Homo sapiens: one gene and its partners. The protein of the gene in region 3 interacts with the protein of the main gene of each other region in a pairwise test. Each region holds a gene or a part of one and is shown on either strand. Other genes may lie near its edges. The genes, in order: TTC23, CEP19, NOTO, APOBEC1, LDLRAP1, MEIS2 and BAG3.

Region 1 (3,500 bases), on a different chromosome or scaffold from region 3:
CTGGCTCTTTTCATTCTAGGGCCACTGCCAGCCCATCCAATGCCCTTATCATAATAGAAAAAGCTGCCCCTTCCTCAGGTAGATACCGCCCATGTTGGAGAGGACCATAGGCTGGATTTCAGCCCTCCCCATGCTCCTGCCAGGCACCCTTGTGTGTGGCACCACCTGCCCAGCCAAACATGGCAGTCTCATGCTGTTCTCACCATTTGGTTGCAAACCTCTCACTGTGGGTTCTAGCAGGTGTTGGCCAACAAGGGCCGGGCCCAGGGACAGTCCCGGAGCCAAGAATGGGGCTGTGCTCAGGCCATCCCAGGTGTTCCCACAGCACATGGCCATGGGCACTGTGGAACATGATATTTGAGGGATGAAATGCCTTTTAAGGTAAAATGTAAGTGAAGGTCACTCTGCCACAGGTTAAGCTACTCCGTGAGGGTTTGTCTTCTAGTTGTGCCACTCTTTTGCTCAAGAATCTTCTGTGACTTCCTCAGCCTGGCCACTCACTGGCCCTCAACAGGCCATGTGTTCCTCCTGTGCTCCCAGTGGCCCATACCCTCTTCTCATCCCACCTAAGTCCTCTTTACTCTTCACTCCTCTCTCTTAAGCTTTTCCTAGCAGAGGTTGATACTATCTCAGTTTCCTAGAAACCCGTGCCATTTAACTTCCTTCACATCTCCCCGTTTCCGCAGTCAGGCTGTAGGCGGCATCCAAAGCTTTATCTGGGAAAGGGAGTCTCCCCGGGTCTTCTCCCCATCACTGGCTCCTCTAAGTCTGACAGTGATATTTTCCCACAGAAATATCACCAAACCCAGCACTCTCAGCAGTCCAAGTCCTTGCTCTCAGAACTTGGGAGATGTGATGGGCTTTACCCTCAGGCAAGTCTAGATTTAAATTCTAGTCCCTCATGTACCTCAGTGGGGCCTCACTGCTGAGTTACACAATCACTCTGCCTCTACAGAGATTCCTCTTTCACCTGAGAAATTTATTTCTGCCTCATCAGCACCTGTAATGTGGTTCCCCTACCCCGGCCCTATCCCCTAACTTGTATTATTGCCAACAAAAGGATTAAACGCCCTCCTTGTCCTTCTGTTTGTGGAGCACTTTTGGGACCCCTTTGGGGCTGTGTCATGAGGAAGCTCCCATGGTCCCTGCTGTATTTGCCAGTTAAATTCAGCATCCATGCTCTGCAGCTGATGTCGTGCCTTCATGTGGAAGATCGTGGAAGAATTTCTGGAGAAAGTATGGAGGATTGACATACTTTAACAGGGTTTCCCCCTGCATATTTTGGTGTCTGAAGAAGCTAATATCAGGAAATACTATGTCCTGACCAATTCATAATTTTTATTCCATGTTAGTATAAATAAATTGGATAAACCAAACAAAATGTCATGTCATGTTGGAATGTTTACTTTCAGTTTCCTAAACGATTTCCTATGAGAATAGCCAAGCCTGGAGTGTGTTCAGGATGTTCTATACATAGATAATTTGCCCAGGAATGCTATATTTTCACTTCTGTAAGAATAGCATTGTGGACAGAGGGAGAAAAGCATGGGACTAAAATGTATGAAAATTAGACTGGGCATTGTGGCTCGCGCCTGTAATCCCAGCACTTTGGGATGCCAAGGTGGGTGGATCACTTGAGGTCAGGAGTTCAAGACCAGTCTGGCCAACATGGTGAAACCCTGTCTCTACTAAAAATACAAAAATTAGCTGGGTATGGTGGTGGGCGCCTGCAATCCCAGCTACTTGGGAGGATGAGGCAGGAGAATCGCTTGAACCTGGGAGGCAGAGGTTGCAGAGAGCTGAGATCATGCCACTGCACTCCAGGCTGGTAGACAAAGAGAGACTCTGTCTAAAAAAAAAAAAAAAAAAACCTCCAGATTTCCACCTGCTGTTGTAAAATGGAAGATCTGCTGAGACGGTGAGACGGATTTAAAAAAAAAAAAAAAAAAAGGTATGAAGATCACTGGCTGGATTCAGATCCTAGCACCACCACAGCTGAGCCCTCTGACTCTGAGCAAGTTTCTTAACTGCCGTGCCTGTTTCCTCCTCTGCCTAATGAGGATTAAAATTTTACCCATCTAAAGAAGACAGCAAAAATTAAATGAGACCCACACAATTGTGTGTGTTCAGCACAATTAGTGACATGTGAGGACTGATCCATGTCAGCTTTTGTTCTTACTACTCAACTGAAATGGATTCCTGTAATGGCTGAGTGGGTTTATTTTGCCAGGTGTCCTCTCTCTTCATAGTTTACACCTTTCCTCACATTCGTGTTGTTTCCTGACTCTTGTTCAACCAGAGGTGATATGATTTGGCTGTGTCCCCACCCAAATCTCGTCTTGAATTATAGTTCCTATAATACCCATGTGTCATGGTAGGGACCCTGTGGGAGGTGATTGAACCATGGGTGCGGTTACCCCCATGCCGTTCTTGCGATAGTGACTGAATTCTCACAAGATCTGATGGTTTTATAAGGGGCTTTGCCCCCTTTGCTCAGCACTTATCTCTCCTGCTGCCCTATGAAAGAGGTGCCCTCTGCCATGATTGTAAGTTTTCTGAGGCCTCCCCACCCATGTGGAACTGTGAGTCAATTAAACTTCTTGGCTTTATAAATTACCCAGTCTCAGGTATCTCTTCATAGCAGCATGAGAATGGACTAATACAAGAGGAGAACAGGCTCAGCTCGTGAGACTACCACACCCATGTGAAAATGTTACAAGTTGCGTAATGATCCTAATCAGCCTTTGAGCTTGTTAACCAGATAGCTTTTTGTTCCTTTCACAGAGAGCAACCTCGATCCTGAGAGAGTCCCTGGAAGCCAAAGTGGAAGCATTTGGCGATTTCAGTCCCGAGGTGGCAGAGACATACCGGCTCCTGGGAGGAGCAGACCTGGCGCAGGGGAACCACAGTGGGGCCCGCAAGAAACTGAAGAAGGTAAAGCTGGAACCAGTACTAACACGAGACTAGGCTCTCCCTCCCCTCTCCAAGGTCAATTTCTCTCCCTTGTGGTGGTTCTTTTAAATGAAACTTTAGAAGTGGCTTGTTTAGATAGGATGACATCACTTTTGTGGTAGATCTAACCTGATACTTTTTGGGTAAAAGACATAGTAAGCCTCTTAGACATACATATTTTTTAAATGAATTATCAGTTTTTACTATGCAAATATTTTTAATTTTTTACGTAGTACAATTGATCAGTCCTTTATGTTTGCGGTGCTCTCTCTATACTGAGTTTATAGAGGAATTCTCTTACACTTTCTTCAATTGTCATTCTTCTTTAAATTTGGAGTTTATTTGTGTGGATGGCATGAGGAATGGATCTAATCTTACCTTTTTTCCAAATGGCCACCCAGTTGTCCAGCACCATTTAATTAGAGAGCCCATCTATGCTCCAGTGACTTCAGATAACACCTTCATCATATACTGATTTTCCTTATGGACTTAAGTCTATTTCTAGATTTCTCTTCTCTTCCACTAGTCTTTCTGTTTATTCATGTGTC
Region 2 (3,474 bases), on a different chromosome or scaffold from region 3:
CTTACCTTATCATAGTACCTTGATACCGAGGATGCTCGATATGCCCTTTCTTAATTGATAAATAGTAAAGACCCTATAGGTCAGCTATTGGGCTGACTTAGGGGTTCATATTCGATCTTCAGTAAGAGTGCAGTACACTAAGAGGTTCAAACTGGATTGCATCCCCAGATTCACATATGAACAAGTCTATATCCTTGAAAAAACCAGATCTTAGGGATCCAACAGGTTGAAACTAACCCAGGGCCAAGCTGAACTTTCAGGGCAGTTCTCAAAATAACTGAGCTTTGTGGTCGTTCCCGCGCACATACCCCACAATTGGAATGATACAGAGAGGATCAGCATGGCCCCTGCGCAAGGATGACACACAAATTCATGAAGCAGTCCGTATTTTAATTTTAAAAAAAATGAGTTTCACAGGCTGAGCGTGTGTGGCCAGAGCCGGACTAGAACCAGATCTTCTGGGGCAAAGGGGCGAGGGGAATGAATGACATTTATCCAACACCTAGTTGTTTTTTCCCTTTAGCAGGAAGTCATTATGCAACTTACACATATTCATCAGATTTCCTCTGACTTACCCGGACATGTACATGGGAATGATGTGCACTGCCAAGAAATGTGGGATTAGGTTTCAGCCTCCAGCTATTATCTTAATCTATGAGAGTGAAATCAAGGGGAAAATTCGCCAGCGCATTATGCCAGTTCGAAACTTTTCAAAGTTTTCAGGTACCTCATGTCTTATCTTGCCTCCTGTCTTAAATATTCTCTAAATACAGGTTCACATCATGACTCTGTCAGGGACTGGATGTGTGACACTGGATGAATTACTTACTCTCAGTGAGCTTCAGTTTCCTAATCTATAAAAGGGAATTGTAGTGTTTTTTTCCAATCTGATAATTAATAATCCTTTTGGGATTGCTGCCTAGGTTAAATGATATAGCATTATTCAATAATATTAATTCCCTTCTCTCATTCCAAATGTTTTTTATTTGTAGTCTTAATATTTTATTAATACCACTACTGCTATCTAAAAGCTATAATATCACTTTTCTTCTCAGACATATTCTCCAGTTGAAAGTGTTTAATATCTCTACAAAGTGATTTTTAAGTTAAAGAAGTCAAAACTGTATCTGTCCTTCTCCCACCACACTGAAAGCTCAATATAAAGGAATGGTTCTACAAAGTAATTCATTCCAATCAAGCCATTTAGCTACTTGACTATAATGGAGATAATATTTTCAGGGTTCAGAGTTTTTGTTCTGTTTTGGCTGTTGCAGTAGTTTATGGCGTATATGATGTACGTGGTACGTATGTGGTATATAGTTTTCTTCTCTCTCCCAGATTGCACCAGAGCTGCTGAACAATTAAAGAATAATCCGCGACACAAGAGTTACCTAGAACAAGTATCCCTGAGGCAGCTAGAGAAGCTATTCAGTTTTTTACGAGGTTACTTGTCGGGGCAGAGTCTGGCAGAAACAATGGAACAAATTCAACGGGAAACAACCATTGATCCTGAGGAAGACCTGAACAAACTAGATGACAAGGAGCTTGCCAAAAGAAAGAGCATCATGGATGAACTTTTTGAGAAAAATCAGAAGAAGAAGGATGATCCAAATTTTGTTTATGACATTGAGGTTGAATTTCCACAGGACGATCAACTGCAGTCCTGTGGCTGGGACACAGAGTCAGCTGATGAGTTCTGATACCAAACACTCAAAACATGCATTGGGCTAGCAGAATATCCATGTTTATTACCAGACTGGTTCTGGAAGAAGCTGTAAAGAATACTAAATATGTTGGGTTATAGGGGATTGACCATGTTACTTTTCAAAACCAGGACATTTAAAGCATCTACTATGTAGGTGCATGAGGAGTATGGGAAAAACAGAATAAAGGAATCTGCCTTTAAGGAGCTTACAATCATGCCGGGTGCGGTGGCTCACGCCTGTAATCCCAGCACTTTGGGAGGCTGAGGCGGGTGGATCACCTAAGGTCAGGAGTTCGAGACCAGCCTAGCCAACATGGTGAAACCTCGCCTCTACTAAAAATACAAAAATTAGCCAGGCGTGGTGGCGGGTGCCTGTAATCCCGGCTACTCAGGAGGCTGAGGCAGGAGATTCGCTTGAACCTGGGAGGCTGAGGTTGCAGTGAGCCGAGATCGCGCCATTGTACTCCAGCCTGGGCGATGAGCAAAACTCCATCTCAAAAAAAAAAAAAAAAAAAAGCTTACAATCTGACTGGAAGATGTCAAAACCTGTGAAAAGCTAATTAGCAGTATTAAGCAACACAAACATTAGTGCCAAATGCATGATAAAGGCTAAAGAAGGCCAGAGCATATATTACTGTAGAGTAGAATAGTAAGGGAAGACTTTGTCCTTTAGTAAAGAGATAGGAGGTGGCCTGGCCCTTGAAATAGTAGTGTTTAGGTAGATGCTTGTGTAGGATTCCTGATAAGAGCAACTGAAAAGAAGGAGAGGGGAAGTAGTAAAGGGACAAGAAACAATTTTTTTTTTGAGGAACCATAAGCAAATTATAGTTTGACAAGACAAGATTGGGGGACATATATGGTTACCAGGGAATTACCTCTTATGTGTTATATCTTTATATTATTTATCTCTGGAAAAGAGTACCCTGCAAAATTCCCTACAGCTGCAAGCAGATGTCACTTGATGGACAGAGGGGGAATTCTGCCCCTCCGGTATCGGGAAATACATACTAAAGACATTGCGAAACGCTGAACCTCTTCCCATAAATAAAAGGTTTGTTTGTAAAATGGGAAATCCACCCATAATAAATGAACAATAGGCACTGCCAGTTTAGGCCTGTTCATGAATGGATCTGCAAGACAGCATCTTCGTTTAACAACATTATCTGTGATTTGATACATTTATCCTTATTACAATATTGTTTAGTTGGTAGAAATTCTATGTTTTCTACAAGGAAATTGATGTTTATTAAATAAAACTGAAAATAATTACTCAGTGTTTCTACCTGTTCACTTCCACTCTCCTTACCATTAAGCACTTCATTAAAAGGGAGCTCATTCTTGTAGTGATATCACCAGAGTTTTGAAATAGTCAGATCTCATACATACAGTAGCCAAAGGGAGCCAAATAATTTTCTGAATTAGAGATCTTTCCATATCTACATAGTATTCCTTTATTCTTTATTGTATAGATATAGGTAGTTTATTTTTTATTTGAGACAGGGTCTCACTCTGTCACCCAGGCTGGAGTGCAGTGGCATGATCACAGCTCACCAAAGCCTCAACCTCCTGGGCTCAAGTGAGCCTCCCCTCTCAGCCTCCCAAGTAGCTGTGAGTACAGGTGCCCACCACCACACCTGGCTAATTTTTGTATTTTTTGTAGAGACAGGGTTTCACCATGTTGCCTAGGCTTGTCTGGAACTCCTGGGCTCAAGTGATCCACCCACCTCAGCCTACCAAAGTGCTAGGATTACAGATGTGAGCCACTGTGC
Region 3 (3,500 bases):
GATTATGGCGGTATTCTTTTGTTACATAGAAAAAATTTTAATTTTTATGTTTGATGTGTTTTTACAAATCCTTTTTTTTTTCTTTTTTGAGACAGGTTCTCTGTCACTCATGCTGGAGTGCAGTGGTGCGATCACGGCTCACTGCAGCCTCAATGTTCCAGGCTTAAGCACTCCTCCTTAGCTTCCTGAGTAGCAGGGACCACAGGCATGCGCTACCATACTCAACTAATTTAAAACATTTTTTTTTGTAGAGATGGAATCTCACAATGCCTGTCTCAGCCTCCCGAGTAGCAGGGACCACAGGCATGCGCTACCATACTCGACTAATTTAAAACATTTATTTTGTAGAGATGGAATCTCACAATGTTACCCAGGCTGATCTTGAACTCCTGGGCTCAAGTGATCCTCCTGCCTCAGCCTCCCAAACTGCTGGGATTACAGGCATGAGCCACTGTGCCTGGCCCCACATCTTATATGATACTTGGAAAGAACTTCCTCACTGTGAAGTCATAAAATAACTTCCCCATTTTTTTCTAAATTTTTGTGGGTTTACCTTTTTACATTTAAATATTTCCTCCATTTAGATTTTTTTTAGTGCAAGGTATTGGGTATGGATCCAGCTTAATTTTTCCCAGATCTGGAAATAATCCCTCTTCCCCATTGGATTATCACTTCTGTTTTAATTTTTATAATAACCATTGACTTTCTTCTTGCTCTGTGCCTGGCACAGTGCTAAGCACCCTGTAAGCATCATATGCTTTTGTTTTTGTTGTTGTGGTAGTTGTTGTTGTTGAGACGGGGTCTTACTCTATTGGCAAGGAGTGATCTCGGCTTGGCTCACTACAACCTCTGCCTCCCGAGCTCAAGTGATCCTCCTGCTTCAGTCTCCCAAGCAGCGGGGTCTACAGTTGTGCACCACCACACCTGACTAATTTTTGTATTTTTTGTAGAGATAGGGTTTTACCATGTTGCCCAGGGTGGTCTCAAACTCCTGGGCTCAAGCGATGGGCCCATCTCAGTCTCTCAAAGTGCTGGGATTATAGGCATGAGCCACTGTGCCTAGACAGCACCATGTTAAAATCCTGACATCTCTGGAAGTAGGGATTATTATCACCATTTTACATGTGAGGAAATCAAGGCTCACAGAAGTACATTGTCTTGCCCAAGGTCCTCTGGCTGGTAATTGGTGGCAGAGCTAGGATTCCAACTAGAGCTTTTTTTTTTTTTTTTTTTTTTTTTAAGACAGAGTCTCACTCTATCACCCAGGCTGGAATACAGTGGCACAACCTTGGCTCACTGCAACTTCCGCCTTCCAGGTTCAAGCGATTCTCCTGCCTCAGCCTCCTGAGTAGCTGGGATTACAGGTGCCCACCACCACATCTGGCTAATTTTTGTATTTTTAGTAGAGACGGGGTTTCGCCAAGTTGGCCAGGCTGGTCTTGAACTCCTGACTTCAGGCTATCCGCCTGCCTCAGCCTCCCAAAGTGCTGGGATTACAGGTATAAGCCACCATGCCCGGCCTCAACTAGAGCTCTTAAGGAACACACAGTACAGCCTACTTTCTTCTCCAAAGGTCAATTTCTGATTCTGAAACAAGGCTGACTAGATACACCAGGCTGTATGTCTGATGGGCTTTTCCTGATCTTTTGGTCTACCTTGGCAGGCACAGTGTAAGCCTAGTGGGCCCAGTGGTTGGAGTCCTAAGCAGCCGGGACCCCAGATACACTCCCTTTGTTGGGGCAGTCTGTCTGCCAGCCCTGAGGACTCCCCAAGGCTAGTGGGGGCTGAGTGGCCTTAGCATTATGCTTGCCATTCTTCTGCCTAGAATACTATACCCCCAGATAGCCCAATGGCTCACTCCCTCATCCCCATCAAGATTTGACTTAGGAACTGCTCTTGGTTGATGCATCTCCACTGGCCCACAGCTTGGTCTCATTTATTCCCGTGGCTTAAAATACCATCTATATAAGCTGATGACTCCCAATTTTTTTTTTAATTGAGACAGAGTCTTGCACTGTCACCCAGGATGGAGTAGAGTGGGCTCTATCTTGGCTCACTGCAACCTCTGCTTCCCGGACTCAAGCAGTTCTCCTGCCTCAGCCTCCTGAGTAGCTGGGATTACAGGCATGTGCCACCATGCCTGGCTAATTTTTGTATTTTTAGTAGAGACGGGGTTTCACCATGTTGGCCAGGCTGGTCTTGAACTCCTGATCTCAAGCGATCCGCCCCCTTCAGCCTCCCAAAGTGCTGGAATTACAGGCATGAGCCAACGTGCTCAGTGATGACTCCCAAATTTGTATCCTCAGCTCAACCCTCTCTTCTGACTTCTATCTCTTCTGACCTCATTTCTAAGATGTAAGCTCCATAACGACAGAGATTTTCTGTTTTGTCCTGAAACCATGCATGACACACAGTAGACATTCAAAAAGTATAATATTTGTTCAGTGAATTAAAAGGGTGAACCCCTGGGGGTCTCTTCTCTGCCCATTCCATGGCGTTGCCAGAAGCAGTCAAGGAGAGGAAAGGAAGGCAAAGAGAAGGGAGGTTTGGCAACTCCTCTTAGGGGCCAGAAGTGAAGCCACTTGGCTAGAGAGTAGTGGTGGCAGACAGTCTCATTGCATTGTCCCTTCTTTCCCATTTGTTTGTTTCCTGTTATTTCTGCACAGTCTCTTTCCACTGTCTTCTTGCACTGTTACCTGGCCAAGGGGAAGGCAAGGTAGCAGAGCTGTGTGTGCCTTCTCATTTTGCCCAGATGGGAGTGCAGGGGGCTTCTGGCTAACCTCCCCTGCTGCTGGATAACCTCCCCTGCTGCTGGTTGCTCTTTAGGGTTGGAGCTGGCTCACTGCTCAGGACTCTGGGCCTTCCCAGACTGGGCCCCAACGGAGGACCTACAGGACACTGAGAGACAGCAAAAGAGAGTCCGAACTATGTTTAACTTGGAGCAGCTGGAAGAGTTGGAGAAAGTGTTTGCAAAACAGCACAATCTGGTGGGGAAGAAGAGAGCCCAGCTGGCAGCTCGGCTCAAACTTACAGAGAACCAGGTGGGAGTAGGGACTCCTATTGGGCCTGGGCTGCACCTGGGGACAAACACTACCTCAGCAAGGCCCTAAAAGGAGGGTGGGAGGAAGATATGGGCCCTCTTCCCTGTGCCAGGCTGTTGAGGGGACAGGCCCTGACTTTTTGCACACTCTATATAATGAAAAAAAAAAGTCCCATTTGAAGTCACATAATGTGAACAACTTGGAATGTTAACTTAGATTATTAGTCTAAAAATTGATAATAAAGGATTTCCATGCTAAATAAGGACCTGCCAGTAAAATTAAGTAGATGTGGCCAGGTGCGGTGGCTCACGCCTCTAATCCCAGCACTTTGGGAGGCTGAGGTGGGCAGATCACAAGGTCAGGAGTTCAAGACCAGCCCAGCCAACATAGTGAAACCCTGTCTCTACTAAAAATACAAAAAAATCAGCTGGGTGCCTATAATCCCAGCTACTTAGGAGG
Region 4 (3,500 bases), on a different chromosome or scaffold from region 3:
GTTTACAACAGACTGTGGTGATAGTAGCTGTTTTTAGGCCAGAAGATTGGTTAGCCCAGGCTGGAAGTCTCAGAAGTAAAAGTCCAAAATAATGTCATAAAGGACTAGGTCTGAAATTCATGACAAGGAAAGTTACAAAAATACAACTCCTGGCTACGCATGGTGGCTCATGCCTATAATCCCAGAACTTTGGGAGGCCAAGGCAGGAGGATCACTTGAAGCCAGGGGTTCAAGATCAGCCTGGGCAACATAGTGAGACCCCATCTCTAAAAAAAATTTAAAAATCCGGCCAGGTGCGGTGGCTCACGCCTGTAATCCCAGCACTTTGGGAGGCCGAGGTGGGCGGATCATGAGATCAGGAGATGGAGACCATCCTGGCTAACACGGTGAAACCCCGTCTCTACTAAAAAATACAAAAAAATTAGCCAGGCGTGGTGGCGGGCGCCTGTAGTCCCAGCTACTCGGGAGGCTGAGGCAGGAGAATGGCGTGAACCCGGGAGGCGGAGCTTGCAGTGAGCCGAGATCGCGCCACTGCACTCCAGCCTGGGCGACAGAGCGAGACTCCGTCTCAAGATAAAATAAAATAAAATAAAATAAAAAATAAAATAAAAAAATCAGACAGGCATGGCAGCATACACCTTTAAAGGCTGAGGTAGGAAGATCTCCTGAGCCCAGAAGTTCAAGGCTGCAGTGAGCTATGATTGGACCACTGCACACTGGCCTAGGTGACAGAGCGAAACCCTGTATCAAAAAACAAAAACAAAAACAAACAACAACTCTTTTTTTTTTTTTTTTTTGAGACGGAGTCTTGCTCTTTCGCCCAGGCTGGAGTGCAGTGGTGCAATCTCGACTCACTGCAAGCTCCACCTGGGGTTCACGCCATTCTCCTGCCTCAGCCTCCCCAGTAGCTGGGACTACAGGCGCCCACCACCACGCCCGGCTAATTTTTTGTATTTTTAGTAGAGACGGGGTTTCACTGTGTTAGGCAGGATGGTCTCGATCTCCTGACCTGTGATCCACCCCCCTCGGCCTCCCAAAGTGCTGGGATTACAGGCGTGAGCCACCGCACCCAGCCAACAACTCTTTTCTCTAGTCTTGCCTCTCAGCCATCTTTAAATGAACTGCTTTATTCTTTTTAGGGGGTCTAATGTCCAGCAGCAACTAGACTAGAGACTACAGGCTTTCTATACGGGAAGCTAGGTTGGGGATCTTCTTAAGTAATTTACCATTGTGCTTGTTGAATGAGCCAAGATTTGTGTTTCCTTAGAGTATTATCACTGCTGGAGGAATTTTGTCAACTACCCACCTGGGGATGAAGCTCACTGGCCACAATACCCACCTCTGTGGATGATGTTGTACGCACTGGAGCTGCACTGCATAATTCTAGTAAGTCACTTTAGGGACACAAATGTTGATGCAAAAAGAAGCATCCTTCTTCAAAGGTCTTTCCTGAGAAAATTTGACTCATATCTTCTTTTTGACATTTATATTGAGATTTAGTTATTTAACTAGCTAGCTCCTCTTAAGAAAATCTCAGAGCCAGGTATGGTGGTGCACACTTGTAGTCCCAGCTACGCAGGAAGCTTGAGTCTAGGCGTTGCAAGCTGCAGTGAGCTATGATCACGCCAATATGCTCCAGCCTGCGTGGTATAACAAGATCCTGTTTCTAAAACACAGCTGGGTACAGTGGCTCATGCCTGTAATCCAAGCACTTTGGAAGGCCAAGATGGGAGGATTGCTTGAGACCAGGAGTCTGAGACCAGCCTGGCCAACATAATGAGACCCCCTCTCTATAAAAAAGAAAATTATGTATCAAACAAAGTAAACAAACAAGCAAACAAACAACATCTAAGCCTAAGAACAAGAAGTGTGTTTGTGGGAGGTAAGTGGAGAAGGGAATTTGGGTAAACCGATCTAAGATATGGGTGGTCCCCATATTAATTACATTTTATCATTTTTATTCTTATTTTATTATCATTATCTTTTAAGCCACAGGGTCTCGCTGTGTTGCCTAGGCTGGGGTGTAGCGGCTATTCACAGGCACCATCACAGCAACCCACAGCCTCAAACTCCGAATTCCTAGCCTCAAGCAATCCTCTGACCTCAGCCTTCTGGGTAGCTAGAACTACAGGCGTGTGTCATCATGTCTGGCTTTATCATTATTATTGTTCTTGTTACTACAACACATATTGGCTCTACTGTATTTCAGATATTCTCCTTTCTCTTATTAGTGTGTGTAATCTTATTGAAGAGAATGTACGTGTTCCATTGGATTCTCTTGAAAGTGGTTCAGGCTGGGTGCAGTGGCTCATGCTTGTAATCCTAGCACTTTGGGAGGCAGAGGGGAGTGGATGGCTTGAGCCCAGAAGTTGGAGACCAGCCTGGGCAACATGGCGAAACCACATCTCAACAAAAACACAAAAAAATTAGCTGGGTGTGGTGGTGCGTGCCTGTAGTCCCAGCTACTTGGGAGGCTGAGGTGGGAGAATTGTTTGAGCCTAGGAGGTTGAGGCTGCAGTGAGCTGTGATTGCACCACTGCGCTCCAGCCTGGGTGAATGCAGTGAGTCCAGAACCAGACCCTGTCTGGGAAAAAAAAAAAAGAAGAAATAGTTAAATCGTCTTCCAACTGACATTTTTAAATGTTTGTGGTGATAATATTATTAATTAAAATATTCATCCTAAGGATTAAATATAATCCTTTTTTATTCCAGAGTCTTCCACCCTGTTTAAAGATTTCAAGAAGATGGCAAAATCATCTTACATTTTTCAGACTTCATCTTCAAAACTGCCATTACCAAACGATTCCGCCACACATCCTTTTAGCTACAGGGCTGATACATCCTTCTGTGGCTTGGAGATGAATAGGATGATTCCGTGTGTGTACTGATTCAAGAACAAGCAATGATGACCCACTAAAGAGTGAATGCCATTTAGAATCTAGAAATGTTCACAAGGTACCCCAAAACTCTGTAGCTTAAACCAACAATAAATATGTATTACCTCTGGCAGTTTCTGTGGGTAAGGAATTTAGAAGCAGCTTATCTGTGTGTTCCTGTCTCAGGTCCCCCACGAGGTTGTAGTCAAGATGGCAGCCAGCGCTGCAATCATTTGAGGGCTTGACTGAGGCTGGAGAATGTGCTTCCCAGGTGGCAGGCTCAGATGGCTGGCAAGTTTGTGCTAGTGGCTGGTAGAAGGTTTCAGTTTCTTGCCACACAGGCCTCTCCACAGGGTTGCTTAAATAACCTCAGGACATGGCAGTTGGCTTCCTACAGATTAATTTACCTTTTGAAAAATTTCCTGTAGAGATGGAGTTTTGCTGTGTTGCCCAGGCTGGTCTCAAAGTCCTGGACTCAAGTGATCCACCAGCCTCGGCCTACCAAAGTGCTGGGATTACCGGTGTGAGCCACCATACCTGGCCCAGAGCGAGTGATCGAAGAGAGACCAAGGTGGAAATTTCCACGACTTTGATGACTTCATCTTGGAATCACACCCTATTTCT
Region 5 (3,500 bases), on a different chromosome or scaffold from region 3:
ATTTACAGTCAAGAAAGGCACCAACAGCCCGCCCACAGGAGGGATGAGGCCCCACTGGAAGGTGTACTGAGCAACTGCGATGGGCCTGCCTCTCTGCTAAATTCTATAAACTTATCCAAGGGTCACAACAGCCCCCAGGAGTCAGAGCTGTTGTTTCCCCCATTTTAAAGATGAAAAACTGAGGTTCAGGGAGGGTAATGAGCTCACTCAAGATGACTCAGACATGAAGCATTGGAGCTGATATCTTAGGATTAAGGCCTTGCTGTTAACCACGAGGCTATATTGCCTCAAAGGAGGCTTCCTGGAAGAGGTTGGATGTGTGGGGTTTGATCAAGTGAAGAAAGGGCATTTAGGATAGAGGGAACTACTTGAGCAAAGGCAAAGAAGTTAGACAGTAAATATTACATTATTAGGAAGAAGCTCTGCATGGTTGGAGCTTCTTGGGGTAGGGGGTATGTAGGGATATTGTGGGAGAAGAGACGGGGAAACTTAAAATTCCCTCACAGTCACTGGTCATTGTGGGGATTGTCTATAGTGGACTGGGTGGGGTGAGGAGAGTCCCTCTGACTTGCCATGTTACCTTGCACAGGTCCCATCCCTGTCTGGGCTTCAGTTGTATCATCAAGTGAGGGGCTTGAGCTGAGGGCCTAAGGCTGATGAGTGGCAACCAGTCTGTAAGGACGTGGTTAGAGGAGGGGAAGGGTCAGGCCAGGGAAGGAGGAATGCAGAAAAATGCTGAACATTTCAGGGGTCAGGGAGGACTAGGGAATGTTTTGACAGCAGAGAGATCACCAGTGACCTTGGCAGGCTTTGGTTCTTTGGAATGGAGGGAGCGGAAGTGACTTTGGAAAGGGGCCAGGAAAGGGCTGAACCAGAGGAAATGGGAGAATGGGGACATGAAAATGGGGGCTGGAGAGGGAGAGTGGAGAATGTTTGCCAGGGGTAGGGATGGATAATGAGATGTTCAAACCTTGATCAATTAGTATTGCTTGCCTGGGGCCTTGTGCTGAGAAAGGATCAGAGGGAAGTAGAGCTGCAATTGATTATCAATGTCTGCCAAGGGTGCGGGTCATAGGCACAGTAGCACTTCTTTCCATTGCTGTCCTTGCTTAGATGGGTCTCAGGTTGAAATTGGTGGCCTGGGTATCCTAGCCTGCAGAGGGGAAGCCTTAGGTATTAGGAATACCTAATTCCAGGTGAGAAGAAATGCCTCCGCCTCCAAAAACCTGATCTTTTGCTAGAATTAAGGTAGTTTGCTGCATGATAAAGTAGTATGGTCTCATGGTCAGGAGCTTGGGCTTTAGAGTCAGTCCTTTGAGTCTCAGTTTCCTCTCTGTAAAATGGGAATGAGAGAATGCCTGCTTGCAAGGTGGCTGTGAGTGTTAGAGGTGATGGTAATAGCTATGGCTTTATTATTGTTGCATCTTTGTTATATGAAAGCGCTGTTTTTCCCTGATGATGGTGCTGTTATTCTGAACTTGAGAGCAGGGTCTGTGTCTGAGTTGCTCCAGGGCCCCATCACTCAACCCAGGACTGGGGACATCTCAGGGACTTTCACATTCTTTTGGAGGATCAAATGGAATAGGCTTGTGGTTGATGGGACAGAGGATAAGGTCATGTTGGGCTTTGGGGTCATCTCAGTGGAGACCTGGCCTCATGTTGGGGTGGAGGCCCAGGGATGAGATCTAGGGCTGGAGGGTCACTGGGCCTGGGGCCAGGGCTGGGGATGGGATGGGGTTGTCCTCGTCATTTCTTCCTTGAGCGAGTATTGAGCGCTACCTGCATGCCAGGTTCTAGATGACAGTCAGTAAGTCCCTGCTCACCTGATCTCAAGACATGAGGGGAACTGGGTACATCTGTAAGTTCCTGTATAACCCTCCCCAGCCCTGACACCCGCACCCTCTTTCAGATGAAGAAATGGCCTCAGAGAGGGACAGTGGCTTGCTCAAGGCAAATCCAGAGAAATGTGGGTGTACAAGGCTCCTTCTGGCTGTGGAGAGGGGGACCAGAGCCCCTGGAGGCCCAGGGCTCTAGGATAGGAGCTGAGAGGGGCAGCAGGGATCCAGACTGGGTAGGGGACCTGGTGATGCCACCTGGACCCAGACTTCTGCTCTTGACAGAGCCGGAACTCCAGAACCAAGCTGAGCCTTGTAGTAGGGGCCCACATCCCTGCCAGAGCCTCAGCTGCCCTGGAACTAGCAATACCCAAACTTTCTTCCTGTGGCTTTTCAATCAGAGCCAGTGAGGAAGGCCTCAGGAGGAGGTAGGGAGGGCCCAGGACATCTCCCAGCCCCTCCCTGGGGGATGGTCTAGGGAAGCTGGCCCTGGCTACCTCTCGTGGCCCCTGGAAGCTGATTCCTGGCTGGATCCTGCTCTGTCCTCAACAAGATTGTGTGTGAGGCTGAAGAGCAGTTTTCTTTCTCATCTGTAAAATGGTGCAGTCATAACAAACACCTCCTACAAGCACAGCATCTGTGAGGGTTTCCTCTCTGTAAAATGGGACAGAGAGGTAGGGGACAGGAAGGGGCTCTGGCAGGTGGAAGTGTGAGGTGTTCATTCATCTTTCTTCATGTCCTCCTTCCGAGGAGCCGGGGATGGTCAGAAACTGTCAGTGCAGCCTGCTTTTGCCCTCATGCCCATTTGCCTCCACGGGGCCCTCACCTACGTGGTGGGGCGCTCTTTCCACGTGTCCCTCCTGGTCCATTTGCCCACCCAGTGAGGCAGGCTCATCCCCTTATTTCCTGACATTTGTGTGGTTGGTGCTTTTAGAGAACTCTCCTTGTGGACTCTGTTCTGCACCATTGTCACAGCCCAGAGAGGGGGGAATGTTAGTCCCAAAGAGGAGAGGGGACTTCCCTAGGACCATCCAGGGGGTGGGAAGCAGAGTGGGTCTCGAACCTTCTCCGATTTGGGAAATCGCCTTCTCCTCTCCCCACCCACCCTTACCCTTCCCTGCTCTCCCTGGGCTACTGTCTCCTGCCCAGCCTCCCACATGCCCCTGTTGGTCTCTACGGATGCGCACAGGGAGGAAAGCAGTGCAGGCTGGGGCCATGGGAACCGCTCAGGGTTGAAGTCCGACTCATTGTATGTGGCCTTCATCTCATGACTTTGCCTCCCTGAGCCTCAGTCTCCTAATCTGTAGAATCATTGTCTCACAGGATTGCACTAAGGATTCAGTAAGAAATGGTATGATTTGCCCTCAGCAAGTGGTAGCATTGAAGTAAAGAGGGCTCAGGGCTTGAAAATAGGGCTCGAAACTTGGCTCTTGCACTTCCTGGCTCTCTGGACTTGGTTATGTGATTGAGCCTCCATGGCCTCCGTGTCTTTGTCTGTCAATGGGTTTGATTAAAGCGTTGACCTCATAGGTTCTTAGGAGGATTAATGAGAACATTTTATGTAAAGCTGCTTACATGGAGCCTTGGTATGTGCCGGAAAGCTTTAGCCCTTTATTAAAAGTGACAGCAGACCCAGCACGGTGGCTCATGCCTGTAATCCCAGCA
Region 6 (2,923 bases), on a different chromosome or scaffold from region 3:
GCCTTTGTTCCTCCATAAATGTGTCCTTTAGTTTCAAACAGATCTTTATAGTTCGTGCTTCATAAGCCAATTCTTATTATTATTTTTGGGGGACTCTTCTTCAAAGAGCTTGCCAATGAAGATTTAAAGACAGAGCAGGAGCTTCTTCCAGGAGTTCTGAGCCTTGGTTGTGGACAAAACAATCTTAAGTTGGGCAGCTTTCCTCAACACAAAAAAAAGTTATTAATGGTCATTGAACCATAACTAGGACTTTATCAGAAACTCAAAGCTTGGGGGATAAAAAGGAGCAAGAGAATACTGTAACAAACTTCGTACAGAGTTCGGTCTATTAATTGTTTCATGTTAGATATTCTATGTGTTTACCTCAATTGAAAAAAAAAAGAATGTTTTTGCTAGTATCAGATCTGCTGTGGAATTGGTATTGTATGTCCATGAATTCTTCTTTTCTCAGCACGTGTTCCTCACTAGAAGAAAATGCTGTTACCTTTAAGCTTTGTCAAATTTACATTAAAATACTTGTATGAGGACTGTGACGTTATGTTAAAAAAAAAAAGGTGTTAAGTCACAAAAAGCGGTAATAAATATTTCATTTTTGATTTTTTGTTAGGCTTTTGCGTTTTTAATGGTTTTAGGACAAGACTGCACAATGCCAACTCTATACAGTGTTAAAAGTAGGTTTTTCCCCCCAGCAGTTGAGTATATTTTAAACTCATCAATAATTTTTAAGGTAATCATCTATAGCCTTTCAATGTCTATTTGACCTATAAGTTCCACCAGCAGAAAACTTCTAAAGGTACGAAACTATGTGTACATGATGAGCCAGGTTGAAAGATCCCCTTGAACATGCTCAACCTCCTTTTTAGATGCATGACGTTAAAAAATATATACTTTCAGATAAAGCTTTTCATGGGCATCCTCTGCCAGAATAAAGGACTTTTCAGGGTTAATTTTACAACATAAGAAATAATGTCTGTGCTCAAAGGTAATTTATCTGCCTGTGTTTTTCCTCTGCCTGTCTTACTACAATATTGTTGGATATGTAAATGAAAATTTACATATGGGTGTTCATAGATAAGTAAACAACTTCTATGGAGTTTGAAATTCTGACTTTAAAAGATTACTTAATCATTAATATTTTATAAATTATATTGTGGTATATTTTTATTTCAGACACATCCATGTGCAGGGATGCTAGTGTGATGATTTGATAACTAAACTTAAACTTTTTTCTGAAAACAAAACAAAACAAAATGGACGGTATAATGCCATTTTCAAAATTTTATGCAACATTCCTGGAAATCTATACCATTAGCTTATTGATACTGCACAAACAATGTCTGCTAAAGTGTGCAAAAAGGGTGAGGCATGTCCCCTCAATTTTCAAATAAATATACTATCCTGGAATTTTTTAACTCTTAAATTTTGAATCTTTGTTTAGAAAGAATAATGTCATATACTTTGGCTAGATATGTGATGTCAACCGGCTAAGGAAATTATTCATCATCTCTGCAAACTTAAACTTGGAAGAAATCCATAGTTATTATTTGGGGCTCTTCCATCTTTCCATTTCAGACAGCATTTATGGAGGTTCTATATAAATGAACGAGGAAATACACTTCTATTGTTTTGTGTTATATTTAGTCAGGTAGAATTTTTACAAATACATTTCAGTTTAAGTGTTGTGTTGCTGTTTAAACATAGAAATAATGCTTCTGACACAAACTAACTTAATAGAGAAATTCAGTGCCACTTGGGAAAGAGAGATAGCTTCCCTCTCATTTTTGCTATTCTATTTTACATGAAGTCTTTTTGTAAATTTTAAATATTTGCCTATTTTTACTTTAAATACTTTTATGTAAACTATGAAAATTCCCCATTATAAATCAACTCTCACATCAGGTGGGAAAAAGAACCTTTTTTTCTTTCCACTCAGTAAATTCTGAAGGGTTTCCTTGGCAATTGGCTCGTGTTTAGGATGTGTTTTATGCAATTATCAAGTTATCTCATTGAAGTTTAGAGACCAGAGCTCTCAACTCTTGGTTTTAATGAATAAAGTCATCTCATGCTTAGTTTATTCGTCAAACCCACGTCCTATCATGTTAACTTTAACCTTCTTAAATATTTGGAGATGAATGATAATTGTAATATTTGTTTGCATTACCTTGCTCTCCCCCACCCCCAACCCCATGATAACACAGAGAAGTGATAGATTTGTCCAATTTTTATAATGCTTTTTTTACACCACCCCGGAAGGCACTTGCTCCTATCTCGGGTTTACTATTTAGTGTAAAGAGTTCCGATTTGGGTATATTTAAGAAAGACTCAGCTGTCAAAAGCAAAGAAACTGGGAATGGTGTTTTGACAACCATATAGTGTTAAAGGAAATACTGTAGTCTGAATAAAATTGCTTATGTTCTCCAAAACAAGAGTAATATAAAAACACTTTTTTATTTATATGAAAAAGCAAAAGCAGAAATAAATTCCAAAGGTTTCCCTTTCTTTAAGAAATTCTGAGAGAACTGCAGTCGCCATCTGTTAAGGGTTGGGAATTGAGCAAGAAGCCACATTTTAAACGAAAAAGAGAGAAAAGACCAGGAAAGTCTGTGTCTTCCGTCCACCCCTCCTCTCTTCCACCCCCTAGGTCAGCACCCCTCACGCCCCTCAGCTCTCACCCTCGTTAGAGTCCACCAGGATCCTCCTGCCTCCTCACCCCCTCCCGCCCCCGCGGGCCTGTTAACCCGGAGCAGATTTGGGAAGGGAAATGTGGCTAATATCTCTAGCAGCTGTCAAAGGAGGGACCTTCCTTCAAAGGGACTGGACAGGGATCCTCCACAAGTTCTCCATTAGCTAGCAGGCCAGCAATTTGATAAGGAGCCTGGACCTCCGCTACAAGTTGCCACTCAGTTAGAAAGTCCGGTGTCCG
Region 7 (3,500 bases), on a different chromosome or scaffold from region 3:
CTAGGTTCAAGCAATTCCCCTGCCTCAGCCTCCTGAGTAGCTGGCACTACAGGCATGCGCCGCCACACCCAGCTAATTTTTGTATTTTTGGTAGAGATGGGGTTTCACCATGTTGGCCAGGCTGCTCTTGAACTCCTGACCTCAGGTGGTCCACTCACCTAGGCCTCCCAAAGTGCTGGGATTACAGGTGTGAGCCACCGCGCCCAGCCCCAGAGCTCTCAGTCTTAACCGCACATTTTGAAAATTGAAAATTACAGATAGGAGGTCTTACAATATGGATTGCCCTGAGGAGGTGCACAGCAGAAGGCGTGGTCAGGATGCCAAGCCAGGGGAGTCATTTGTGGGGTCATGCCCTCTACCCTGTGTCTCTTGCAGCGGTCCCAGTCTCCAGCTGCCTCTGACTGCTCATCCTCATCCTCCTCGGCCAGCCTGCCTTCCTCCGGCAGGAGCAGCCTGGGCAGTCACCAGCTCCCGCGGGGGTACATCTCCATTCCGGTGATACACGAGCAGAACGTTACCCGGCCAGCAGCCCAGCCCTCCTTCCACCAAGCCCAGAAGACGCACTACCCAGCGCAGCAGGGGGAGTACCAGACCCACCAGCCTGTGTACCACAAGATCCAGGGGGATGACTGGGAGCCCCGGCCCCTGCGGGCGGCATCCCCGTTCAGGTCATCTGTCCAGGGTGCATCGAGCCGGGAGGGCTCACCAGCCAGGAGCAGCACGCCACTCCACTCCCCCTCGCCCATCCGTGTGCACACCGTGGTCGACAGGCCTCAGGTACGGGAAGTTAGTCGTCAGCAGACTGGTTATGGTGGTATGTCTCCAGGGGTGCAGGAGCTCTGTGGGTGCCCTGGGTTCCCCCTTCATCCCTGCCTATTTAACATGCGTGTACCTACAGGCAAGTGAGATTCGAGAAATTGCTAGGTATTAACAGAAATGCAGGACAGTTGCTCAGGCTGTGAACCCTCCGCACTCTGCAGCTTTTGCTGGGCTGATCATTGTGCATTGCGGCTGACTTAGAGCAGACGAAACAGCTTGGCAGAACTTACATACCTGGGACCAGCTTCCTTAGTGTCCACCACACCCTTTCAGGGCTCTTCACACCCCCATCCACACCGCAGCCACAGCCTCACCTTGGGTGTAGGCAGTGTGTCACCTTCCACTCAGTTACCCACTCCACTCTGCAGGCCCATTCTGCTCATTCCCACCCCTGTGCCTTTGCCCATGCTGAACCCGCTCCCTGAAATGCCCGCACAGTATAGGTTCTCCCTGTCCTCTGAGGGACGAGCCAGTCTTGTCTCCTCCATGAAGCCTACTCATCCTTCTCATCTCATGATGCCTCATATGAGTCCCTTAATGAGAACTCCCAACTTGTATGAGTTCAACATGTCATTATTCGGGGCATTTCAGAAGTGTTCATTTTATCTCTTCAGCTTAGGGCTGAGCCTGACCACAGGGCCCATGTCTTAACCCCCCTCCTCCCTTTGTAATCAGGTACCATGTGGTCTGGCTGAGGCATCAGCCAGCTATGGCGGATTGGAAGCCGTGCTGGCCTGGGGAAGGTTGTAGGCAGGGGTCTGGTTATCTTCCAGTGGAGACACAAGGTGCAGGTTCCTGGAAGAGGATGTCATTTAGTTTAAGCAGCTCACAGCTTAGCAGCAGGACAGTCAGCAGCCCTGGGCCCCCTGTGGCTGCAACTTGAGCAGCTGAATGCTACAGTTTTTAAAAAGGAAAGCCCCCCGTGAACAAATGTGGGATATTCTTTCATTACAAATGGTCACACTGGCCAGGGCCCTGGAATAGAGCACCCTCATCTTAAAATGTTGTTTTATTTGGAAATAATTTCAATCTCATAGAAGAGTTGTGTGAATCATACAGAGCCCCACATATACTTCATCCAGTTCACTGTTTGTCAATATGTCTGCATTCGCCTTGTCATTTCTTCTCTCGTATATTATTGATGTGTTTTAACTGTTTGAAAATTAATTGCAGACATCATGTCCCTTTTCCCCTGAATAGCAAATATTTTCCTAAGAGGAAGACATTCTCGTTCATAACCATGGTAGACTTACCAGATTCAGGAAATTTCACATTCTTACAACATTATTATCCAGTACATTTTTGAATCTTTTTTATAGCAGTTTGCCCCCACTTCCAGGATGTCTTCCAGGACTGAAACAAGGATCATGAGCACCGCATTTAGATGCAACTTCTCTTCAGTCTTCCCTCAGCCTTTCTTTGCTTTCACGGCCTTGACGGTTTTGAAGAACACAGGCTGTGGAACACCCTCTCTAAAGTGTTTCTAAAGTCACTTCTTACACAGCCATTGCTGTTAGAACCTAGGAGGGGTGCGTGGTTGGGTTGTGAGTGGTAAGGGCCAAAGTTGCGAATGTCTGCATTGGCGAAAGAGATTTGATGGAAAAGGAGGTTGCTGGAGTGTAGACAGCTACATCGATCCATACTTGGGTTCAGCAATCCTAGGAGGGTCCCATTTGTAGAGAGAGGGATATTTTCTCCACATCATTCCCATGTGTTTCTCATCATCAGTGAAATGATATTTCATCCTGTTCTTACCATTAACCGTGTTTGTGGTGACCTCCCTTTTAGAGCTGATTCAAAGTTCCCTTTTGGGAGGCTTTCCAGGATTTCACCAAACTGAACGTTATAGTGGAATTGAGTGTTTTAAGCTGGGAATAGTTTAGAAATAATATAGTCCAGTTATTTCCCAGTTGATGAAATTAGGGTGAGATTTTAAAAGAAGTGTTAGATATTCACTTACATGAATAAGAGCCAAGATAAGGCCAAGCGCAGTGGCTCACGCCTGTAATCCTGTAATCCTAGCACTTTGGGAGGCCGAGGCGGGGGTATCACTTAAGGTCAGGAGTTCAAGACTAGCCTGGCCAACATGGTGAAACCCCATCTCTACTAAAAATACAAAAAAAAAAGTTAACCAGGCATGTTGGTGGGCGCCTGTAATCCCAGCTACTCGGGAGGCTGGGGTGGGAGGATTGCTTGAACTTGGGAGGCAGAGGTTGCAGTGAACTGAGATCACACCACTGCACACTCCAGCCTGGGTGACAGAGCGAGGCTCCGTCTCAAAAACAAAAACAAAAACAAAAAGCGTCAAGATATTTTTGCTTTGAGCATAGCTCATTAAAAAATATATGGCTTACTAGGCGTGGTGGCTCACACCTATAATCCTAGCACTTTGGGAGGCCGAGGTGGGCAGATTGCTTGAGCTTAGAAATTCAAGACCAGCCTGGGCAGCATGGTGAAACCCTGTCTCTACAAAAAAATAGAAAAATTAGCCAGGCATGATGGTATGTGCCTGTAGTTGCAACTAATCATGAAGCTAAGGTGAGAGGATCACTTGAGGCCAGAAGGTTGAGGCTGCATTGAGCTGTGATAGCCCCGCTGCACTCCAGCCTGGGCAACAGAGTGAGACCCTGTCCCCCACAAAAATCTATATATCTATATGGCTGTAGTTTATAGTCACAGGA

The links.
Region 1: the proteins of NOTO (region 3) and TTC23 interact in binary tests that used the Homo sapiens proteins (3 or more experiments, as listed by UniProt).
Region 2: the proteins of NOTO (region 3) and CEP19 interact in binary tests that used the Homo sapiens proteins (3 or more experiments, as listed by UniProt).
Region 4: the proteins of NOTO (region 3) and APOBEC1 interact in binary tests that used the Homo sapiens proteins (3 or more experiments, as listed by UniProt).
Region 5: the proteins of NOTO (region 3) and LDLRAP1 interact in binary tests that used the Homo sapiens proteins (3 or more experiments, as listed by UniProt).
Region 6: the proteins of NOTO (region 3) and MEIS2 interact in binary tests that used the Homo sapiens proteins (3 or more experiments, as listed by UniProt).
Region 7: the proteins of NOTO (region 3) and BAG3 interact in binary tests that used the Homo sapiens proteins (3 or more experiments, as listed by UniProt).

The regions. Positions count from the first base shown.
Region 1 is NC_000015.10:99,155,582-99,159,081, reverse strand, and holds part of TTC23 (tetratricopeptide repeat protein 23), read left to right. Parts: intron 1-2,784; coding exon 2,785-2,934; intron 2,935-3,500. UniProt on the Homo sapiens protein: Participates positively in the ciliary Hedgehog (Hh) signaling.
Region 2 is NC_000003.12:196,705,777-196,709,250, reverse strand, and holds the end of CEP19 (centrosomal protein of 19 kDa), read left to right. Parts: intron 1-523; 5' UTR 524-593; coding exon 594-723; intron 724-1,338; coding exon 1,339-1,700; 3' UTR 1,701-2,974; downstream 2,975-3,474. UniProt on the Homo sapiens protein: Required for ciliation. Recruits the RABL2B GTPase to the ciliary base to initiate ciliation.
Region 3 is NC_000002.12:73,205,574-73,209,073, forward strand, and holds part of NOTO (homeobox protein notochord), read left to right. Parts: intron 1-2,826; coding exon 2,827-3,041; intron 3,042-3,500. UniProt on the Homo sapiens protein: Transcription regulator acting downstream of both FOXA2 and Brachyury (T) during notochord development. Required for node morphogenesis.
Region 4 is NC_000012.12:7,648,909-7,652,408, reverse strand, and holds the end of APOBEC1 (C->U-editing enzyme APOBEC-1), read left to right. Parts: intron 1-1,267; coding exon 1,268-1,386; intron 1,387-2,712; coding exon 2,713-2,862; 3' UTR 2,863-3,009; downstream 3,010-3,500. UniProt on the Homo sapiens protein: Cytidine deaminase catalyzing the cytidine to uridine postranscriptional editing of a variety of mRNAs. Form complexes with cofactors that confer differential editing activity and selectivity.
Region 5 is NC_000001.11:25,550,106-25,553,605, forward strand, and holds part of LDLRAP1 (low density lipoprotein receptor adapter protein 1), read left to right. Parts: intron 1-3,500. UniProt on the Homo sapiens protein: Adapter protein (clathrin-associated sorting protein (CLASP)) required for efficient endocytosis of the LDL receptor (LDLR) in polarized cells such as hepatocytes and lymphocytes, but not in non-polarized cells (fibroblasts).
Region 6 is NC_000015.10:36,888,704-36,891,626, reverse strand, and holds the end of MEIS2 (homeobox protein Meis2), read left to right. Parts: 3' UTR 1-2,423; downstream 2,424-2,923. UniProt on the Homo sapiens protein: Involved in transcriptional regulation. Binds to HOX or PBX proteins to form dimers, or to a DNA-bound dimer of PBX and HOX proteins and thought to have a role in stabilization of the homeoprotein-DNA complex.
Region 7 is NC_000010.11:119,671,880-119,675,379, forward strand, and holds part of BAG3 (BAG family molecular chaperone regulator 3), read left to right. Parts: intron 1-375; coding exon 376-777; intron 778-3,500. UniProt on the Homo sapiens protein: Co-chaperone and adapter protein that connects different classes of molecular chaperones including heat shock proteins 70 (HSP70s), e.g. HSPA1A/HSP70 or HSPA8/HSC70, and small heat shock proteins (sHSPs), e.g. HSPB8.